2 linked regions of the Homo sapiens genome follow. The protein of the gene in region 2 interacts with the protein of the main gene of each other region in a pairwise test. Each region holds a gene or a part of one and is shown on either strand. Other genes may lie near its edges.

The links. Proteins that work in one complex are often made in the same cells at the same time.
Region 1: the proteins of LRRC39 (region 2) and MYH7 interact in binary tests that used the Homo sapiens proteins (3 or more experiments, as listed by UniProt).

Annotation. Positions count from the first base shown.
Region 1 is NC_000014.9:23,421,912-23,425,660, reverse strand, and holds part of MYH7 (myosin-7), read left to right. Parts: intron 1-242; coding exon 243-379; intron 380-636; coding exon 637-892; intron 893-1,511; coding exon 1,512-1,754; intron 1,755-1,937; coding exon 1,938-2,114; intron 2,115-3,335; coding exon 3,336-3,481; intron 3,482-3,749. UniProt on the Homo sapiens protein: Myosins are actin-based motor molecules with ATPase activity essential for muscle contraction. Forms regular bipolar thick filaments that, together with actin thin filaments, constitute the fundamental contractile unit of skeletal and cardiac muscle.
Region 2 is NC_000001.11:100,176,644-100,180,392, reverse strand, and holds the start of LRRC39 (leucine-rich repeat-containing protein 39), read left to right. Parts: upstream 1-2,136; 5' UTR 2,137-2,258; exon of another isoform or gene 2,259-2,275; intron 2,276-3,749. UniProt on the Homo sapiens protein: Component of the sarcomeric M-band which plays a role in myocyte response to biomechanical stress. May regulate expression of other M-band proteins via an SRF-dependent pathway. Important for normal contractile function in heart.

The DNA of each region.
Region 1 (3,749 bases), on a different chromosome or scaffold from region 2:
ATCTCTTTTCCATTGACTCCTCTGATGCTTTTCCTGTTGTAATCATCTTAGCAAAATCTCTTACCTGTATGCTACCCCTCCCAGTGGAACATCTAGCACCACTCCCCTCATCCCAGCTCCAGCTGCCATTGACCTCCTCCCTGCAATCCTTTTCTAGGCTGTTACCCTTCCTAAGGTAATCCCCACCATCTCTTTCCCTCGTACCCCTCCCTAGTCATGGCCAACACACACCTTGCCTGCAGGTGTTCTTCAAGGCCGGGCTGCTGGGGCTGCTGGAGGAAATGAGGGACGAGAGGCTGAGCCGCATCATCACGCGTATCCAGGCCCAGTCCCGAGGTGTGCTCGCCAGAATGGAGTACAAAAAGCTGCTGGAACGTAGGTGAGAGATCTCAAGAGGAGGTTTCCCGCTTCTCTGAGGCCCAGGCTGGTTCAGGGGCAGTGTCAGGAAAAAAAGCTCAGCAGATCTTCAAACACAGAGACCTGCAGGAGGGGCTCATATGAACACACTGCAGTCACAGGGTCAGAGGCCTCAGGAAGGGTGGGAGGGATGAAGGAAATGGGATATTCCCAAGGTTTCAGGACCTCAGGTAGGAAGGAGGCAGGAGGCTCAGCACTCCTTTCAATGGGCCCCTGCAGAGACTCCCTGCTGGTAATCCAGTGGAACATTCGGGCCTTCATGGGGGTCAAGAATTGGCCCTGGATGAAGCTCTACTTCAAGATCAAGCCGCTGCTGAAGAGTGCAGAAAGAGAGAAGGAGATGGCCTCCATGAAGGAGGAGTTCACACGCCTCAAAGAGGCGCTAGAGAAGTCCGAGGCTCGCCGCAAGGAGCTGGAGGAGAAGATGGTGTCCCTGCTGCAGGAGAAGAATGACCTGCAGCTCCAAGTGCAGGCGGTGAGGCTCCTGGGCTACTGTTGGCTCTTCCACCCTGCTCTGCCTTCACTTCCCACAACCCTGCACCTCCCTGCACAGGGGCTCACTGTCTTGTTCCTTCAGTCAGAGGACTCTGGGATCAACACTTCTAAAGACCTCCAAAGAGGTCCCTCAGGAGGAGGAAAGGGCAGAGGGAAAAGAGCTGACTTTTAAAAGCACAGGCTTTCTACTTGGGTTCAACCTAGATACACAGCTTAATTATTTTGTGACCTTGGGCAGACCATGCATCATCTTTGAGCCTCAATTTCCTCTAGACAGGGAATAAAGCTGTCCATTTCATTAAGCCATCATACATAAGTGCTTGGCATCAGCAAATGCAATTCCCACCCTTCGATGGAGGAGACCAGAGGAAGAGGTCCAGATGAAGATTTCTGGTTCCTTTCCTCTCTGCTCCCCTCCCCAGTGTTCCCAAGTTATACTATCCTGAAACTCTTCCCCTCCCCATACTTCTGAAGCTCTTGCCAAGTGGGGATATCCTAGAGTTACCCTCCTATTTGAGTGATGTGCCTCTCCTTCCCTCTACCTGCAAGAATGAGGACCTTACCCCCTGAACAGCCTCCCCTCTGTTCCTCACCTTCAGGAACAAGACAACCTGGCAGATGCTGAGGAGCGCTGTGATCAGCTGATCAAAAACAAGATTCAGCTGGAGGCCAAGGTGAAGGAGATGAACGAGAGGCTGGAGGATGAGGAGGAGATGAATGCTGAGCTCACTGCCAAGAAGCGCAAGCTGGAAGATGAGTGCTCAGAGCTCAAAAGGGACATCGATGATCTGGAGCTGACACTGGCCAAAGTGGAGAAGGAGAAACACGCAACAGAGAACAAGGTAAGGGCAGCTCCCTTTGGCTCCAGCCCGGGTCTCATCAGGACTCTCAGACCATACTGACCTTGACCCAGGCTAGCCACTCGGCATCCAGAGAGCAGCATGGACCTTGACATGGAGCTCCCCACAGATGGCACCAAGCTGGTGACCTTTGACCCTAAAGGAGATGGGATTCTTGGTCGGCAGGTGAAAAACCTGACAGAGGAGATGGCTGGGCTGGATGAGATCATTGCCAAGCTGACCAAGGAGAAGAAAGCTCTGCAAGAGGCCCACCAACAGGCTCTGGATGACCTTCAGGCCGAGGAGGACAAGGTCAACACCCTGACTAAGGCCAAAGTCAAGCTGGAGCAGCAAGTGGATGATGTGAGTAGATTGAGAGTTGTGGGGCCTAGATATGCCATGTCTATCTGTGCCCAGAGCTCTGTGTGTGTGTGTGTGTGTGTGTGTGTGTGTGTGTGTGTGTGTGTGTGTGTTTGTGTTTATGTTTAGAGGGGGGTAGGGTTAGAGGATGTTAACTTTTCTGATATCTTTCTAGAAAGGAGCTGGGGAATGAAAAGTCAGAGGTGGTGATCAATTCTGAATTATGTATCTAATCTCACTGGTATGATCAATAATAGAGATGAGTTTTCTTATTTAATTTAAGTGCAATCCCATATATCTCTGCCTTTGACACAAGATTTAGAGGGTCATCTCATAAGAACATGATAAATTTCTTTGGAAATTTTGTGAGGCTCCCCAAGTAGAATTTTTGAAATTCCAATATTTAAGGCAGAATCTGATCATTGTTCCCTCTGATGCACATATGTCTGTTGACTCACTTATCACTCTGTATTTTAATTATTTAAGCTTCTATCTCAGCCATAAGACTACAAGCTTCCTTTAGATAGGAACTTAGATCTATTCAATTTGGGGACTGCAGTGCTTAGCACAGAGCCTGATGCCCAGTAGGTGTTTATAGGATGCTGAAAGAATGAATACGGCGGCCAGCCGCGGTGGCTCACACCTGTAATCCCAGCACTTTGGGAGGCCAAGGCGGGTGGATCACGAGGTCAAGAGATCGAGACCATCCTGGCCAATATGGTGAAACCCCATCTCTACTAAAAATACAAAAATTAGCTGGATGTGGTGGCGTGCGCCTGTAGTCCCAGCTACTCAGGAGGCTGAGGCAGAATAATCCCTTGAACCAGGGAGGCGGAGGTTGCAGTGAGCCGAGATCGCGCCACTGCACTCCAGCCTGGCGACAGAGTGAGACTCCATAAAAAAAAAAAAAAAAAAAAGGAGGAAGGAAGGAAGGAAGGAGAGAAAGAAAGGAGAGAAAGAAAGAAAGAAAGAAAGGGAAAGAAAGAAAGAATACGGCTTTGGGGTTTCATCCCACAGTCATTTATTCCTTTATCTATAAAATATTGATTCAGCATCCCCTATATCTAGGCAATCTCACAGTCCCCTAATAACATTTGGCCCACTCTGGGGAAGGTTTCCCAAGTCCTGAACACAAAGATTTACCAAGTCCTGAGGTAACTGAACAACAAAATCACCAAGTCAGGATGCTTTGCCTCACTGGGCCTGGCTCCTTCTCTCTACCAGCTGGAAGGATCCCTGGAGCAAGAGAAGAAGGTGCGCATGGACCTGGAGCGAGCGAAGCGGAAGCTGGAGGGCGACCTGAAGCTGACCCAGGAGAGCATCATGGACCTGGAGAATGACAAGCAGCAGCTGGATGAGCGGCTGAAAAAGTACTGTGTCCCCTCCCTGCTGCCCTTCCTCCTCCCCAGCCCATAACAGTACAAGCAGACCCAAGACAGCCATCCTCTGAGGCAACAACCTCACGCAGCCTCCACAAGTGGAGGCGCAAACCATGGGAAAAGGCCTCCCAGGCAAGGGCTTTCCTCCCCTAGTCCCAGATATCAGGGTTAGTTAGATGGTCCTCCCTGGCAAAAAGTCCATTGTATCCCATGAGTCCTTTCTTCTTGTTAGGCACTCAGTGGGAATGAAAATAACAGC
Region 2 (3,749 bases):
GCAACTTTTGCTGCCAAAACAAACCCCAGAACATACTGCCTTTGCTGCTACCCATGCCAGCAAAAATGGACACCAGCGACACAAGTCACCCAACAGAGCCCTTTGTTGGTGTATATAATTAGTGGAACCTTAGTAGTGTATAAAATTAGTCACATACCCCATTCCAGTAGCAGGGGAGGCTGGGATTTCTTTTCCCCCTCAAATTCTACCTTGGAAAGGTAGGATTCATGATGTGGGGGATTATAAAAATGTGGATGGTGTTCAAAATATTTTGGACAGTCGTAAATGACAGATAGATATTCATTATATAGTGCCTGTCTCTTTGCATTCACTTTCTACATCCCTCCAAAGTCACCAAAATTCTGGCTAATTTGTGTCATAAATAGCTCAGGCATCTATTCACTTTCCCTATCCTCCCGGGCATTTCTTTAGTGTAAGTCACTCCATGGGGATGGGAAATAAAAGGTAGATAAGGGAAGGAGAAGAGAGATGCCTTGAAATTTGTGGGTTCTCTATAAATACTGTCAAATTAAAATTTAATTGTACGTAGTGCCAAAGGCAGAAAGAAATCTTAATTTTCTCCAAGGTAACAATATACTGTTCTTTTTAACTGAAACAAAACTCCCTGGATCTCTCTCTCTCTCTCTCTCTTTTTTTTTTTTTTTCTTCAGACAAGGAAGGCTCTGTTGCCCAGGCTGGAGTGCAGTGGCACCATCACAGCTTGACCTCCCTGGCTCAAGGTATCCTCCCACCTCAGTCTCCCAAGTAGCTGAGACTACATATACACACCACTACACCTGGCTAGTTTTATTTTATTTTATTTATTTTTATTTTTATGGAGACAGGGCCACCATGCCTGGCTACTTTAATTTTTTTTTTTTTTTTTTTTTTTTGGTAGATACAGGGTCTCACTCTGTTGCTCAGGCTGGTCTCCAGCTCCTGGGCTCAAGTGATCCTACCATCTTGGCCTCTCAAAGTGCTGGGATTACAGGTGTGAGATCTTGATTTTTACTTATGAACACATGCAAGCACTCTGTATGTGTTGGGTGGTGTACACTCTCGGGACAGGGAAGTTAGAGTTTCAATTGTGGCCATGGCTTCTTTACTCTTTCTGTGATCTTGAGCAGTCCCACAACTCTTAGAACTTAATTCATTATAGAAGTGTTGGAGAATTTCTGTGAGATAATCAGGCATAAATTTTTAAAGCATTAATATTGCTGAGATGTCCAAATGACTACATAAATTATGATCCACCTACACGCTAAACTGCTATGTAGCCATTAAAAAGAATGACGCTGCTCTAAATATACTAATATGAAACAGTTTCCAAGATATCCTGAGTGAAGAAAAGACAGTATAGAACAATGTATATAGTATGCTACCATTTTTGTATGTGTGCATGCCTTCACATATGTGTGCTTTTAAGGGATATAGGCATATTTAAGCTCGTAAATTCATAGACCATCTTTGTAAAGGTACACAAAGAACTGGCAATAGTGGTTGCCTTCAGAGAAGAGAACTTGAAGAGAACCTCCCTACTGGAGGCAGGGATGGTGGAAGGGGTGGGGGATGGAGAGAGTGGAGATTGAGCTTTTGAATTCTGTTCCATGTGCATATATTATAAATTCAAAAAAAGATATAGTTTATTTTTTAAGAACCTGGAATTAAGTCCTATCTATGAAAGCTGAAGAGATCAAAGTGAGAGGTAATTTAATTTGAAGCCCAGGTACAGCAGAAGTTTGGGGCTTCTGTGTTACTCATGCTTATCCACACCTTTATTTTTTCTTTTTCTAAAGCATCTGGGTCTTTAGTTCAAATATTTGCAGATCCATGGTTTACTGGGTAGAATTTTTGTTGTGGCATACATCAACATATTCCAAGTTTCTCTGCTTGGATGGAATAGATGCATGAAATTCTGTGAAATGATTAAGCTGTGAAAAGTAGAAGGACTTTGAATAGGCATTATTTTTCAAGATCTTAGAAATAGTTATGCCTGATAGTTTTATAATGTCTGTAGCGTATTTTGCAGTCCACAGAACGCACTCACATACATTATCAGCTGATCCGTCGCAAAGAAGCCTCATGTGATTCTTTCTATTCTCAGCTTTGTCCATGAACTAAAATTAGAACTAGGCTGACATTACATTTCACTTGGTTACAGCTGACTGGGGATTTTAATCATTTGGAGCCACACTGAAAAAAAAATTTCCCCCTGCAATCTACTCTTAACTGATAGTCGCTAACTTTGGTTATGTGTGGTAAGTATTTGACAATGGTAAGTATTTTTCAAAAACATTTTTCCTTTCTTCTTCACATGTAAATAGATTGCTGCTGATACCTATACTGTGTCTGTATTGGTTGGAATGTCCAAACAAACTGGAATAGAATTTAAAAGTTTTTTTGCGGGGTGTTCATGGTCACTCATATAATTGTGCTCCTCTGGAAGATAGATTTCCCCAGAAGTAAGAAACAATTCTTCTGCAATTCTTTTCTATGCTTACCTCACTTGTCACATTATGTGCTTTTTTTCTATTATGGTACTAATCAGAGTAGAGAGCAGTCCTGTGCTGGAGGAAGAAATATATCATTATTGACTTGTGTTTCCCTAGGGGAAGTTGGTTGTTATAGGAAAACTGATGGATGAGCAACATTTAATGGCAAATGAGGAAATGAATTAGCAAATGGATGAATTGTTTTACATGTCTTCTAAAATACATGTATACATGTAGATACTTGGGAATTCAAAAATATTTTTATTCGAGTATTTAGCAAAAACTTCAAACTTTCTTAAATTAGAGACAATAAATTGTAAATTGGTTGCAATATGCTCAGGAAGTTGGATTACCAGTGTATGTATCCCAAGGTTTCTTCACAGCAAAGAGATCTCGCATTCTGTTCCTGAGTAAATTCGGCATGCCTTGCTTAGAGATTCTCTCAACAATTTCCTGCCTATGCCAATTATTTATCAATCTTGAAATTTTAAACTTTTTTCTGTAATATAGTTCTCCTCTTTCTTTGACTGTCTCACACACATATATACTGCATAATATTAGTTTAAAAAATCAATAATTTAGAAGAGGTTAATAATGAAAAGCAATATTATCTATCCGATTCCTCTCTATCACCAGTCCTGCTCCCTAGAAGTAATCATTTTAACCATTTTGGAATTTAGTTTTCAGTGGTTATCTCCATATTTCTCTCTTTTTTTTCTTTTTCAAAGACAATTGCATGCTATTTTTAATCAACTTTAAACATCTGTGGAGCTTCATTATGAGAGGTGGGGATTAAGTTCCCTTACACTGCCATAGAGTTATATCCCTATTTTTAGCTTCTCTCTTGATTACCTTAATAACTTTAAGCAAATACTTTAATCTTTATTTCTTGTTCCATAAGGTACAGACAGTATCTGTTGATTCCCCACTTCGAAGATGTGGATATCGGTGTTCTTATCATTTACTTCTTTTCCTTATTTCCTTCTTCCATATTCTGTTAAAAGTACTGTCACTTTTATGTTTTCAAGATATATGGCATTTATATTCTGTTCTGTAACCCTCAATAAGTCTTCCTTACTTTTTTATAGATTGATTTATTTCAAAAGTTTAAGACCAATACATAGACTTTACTATGTAATTTCTGTTTTCTGCAGAGCCAACATTTCCTTCTCAGTATCAATGTCATATTCATTGTACTAAAGAAGAATGTTAAAATAGATTCTCCTTTCCTGCACTTCAATAAATGCTAAAAAATCA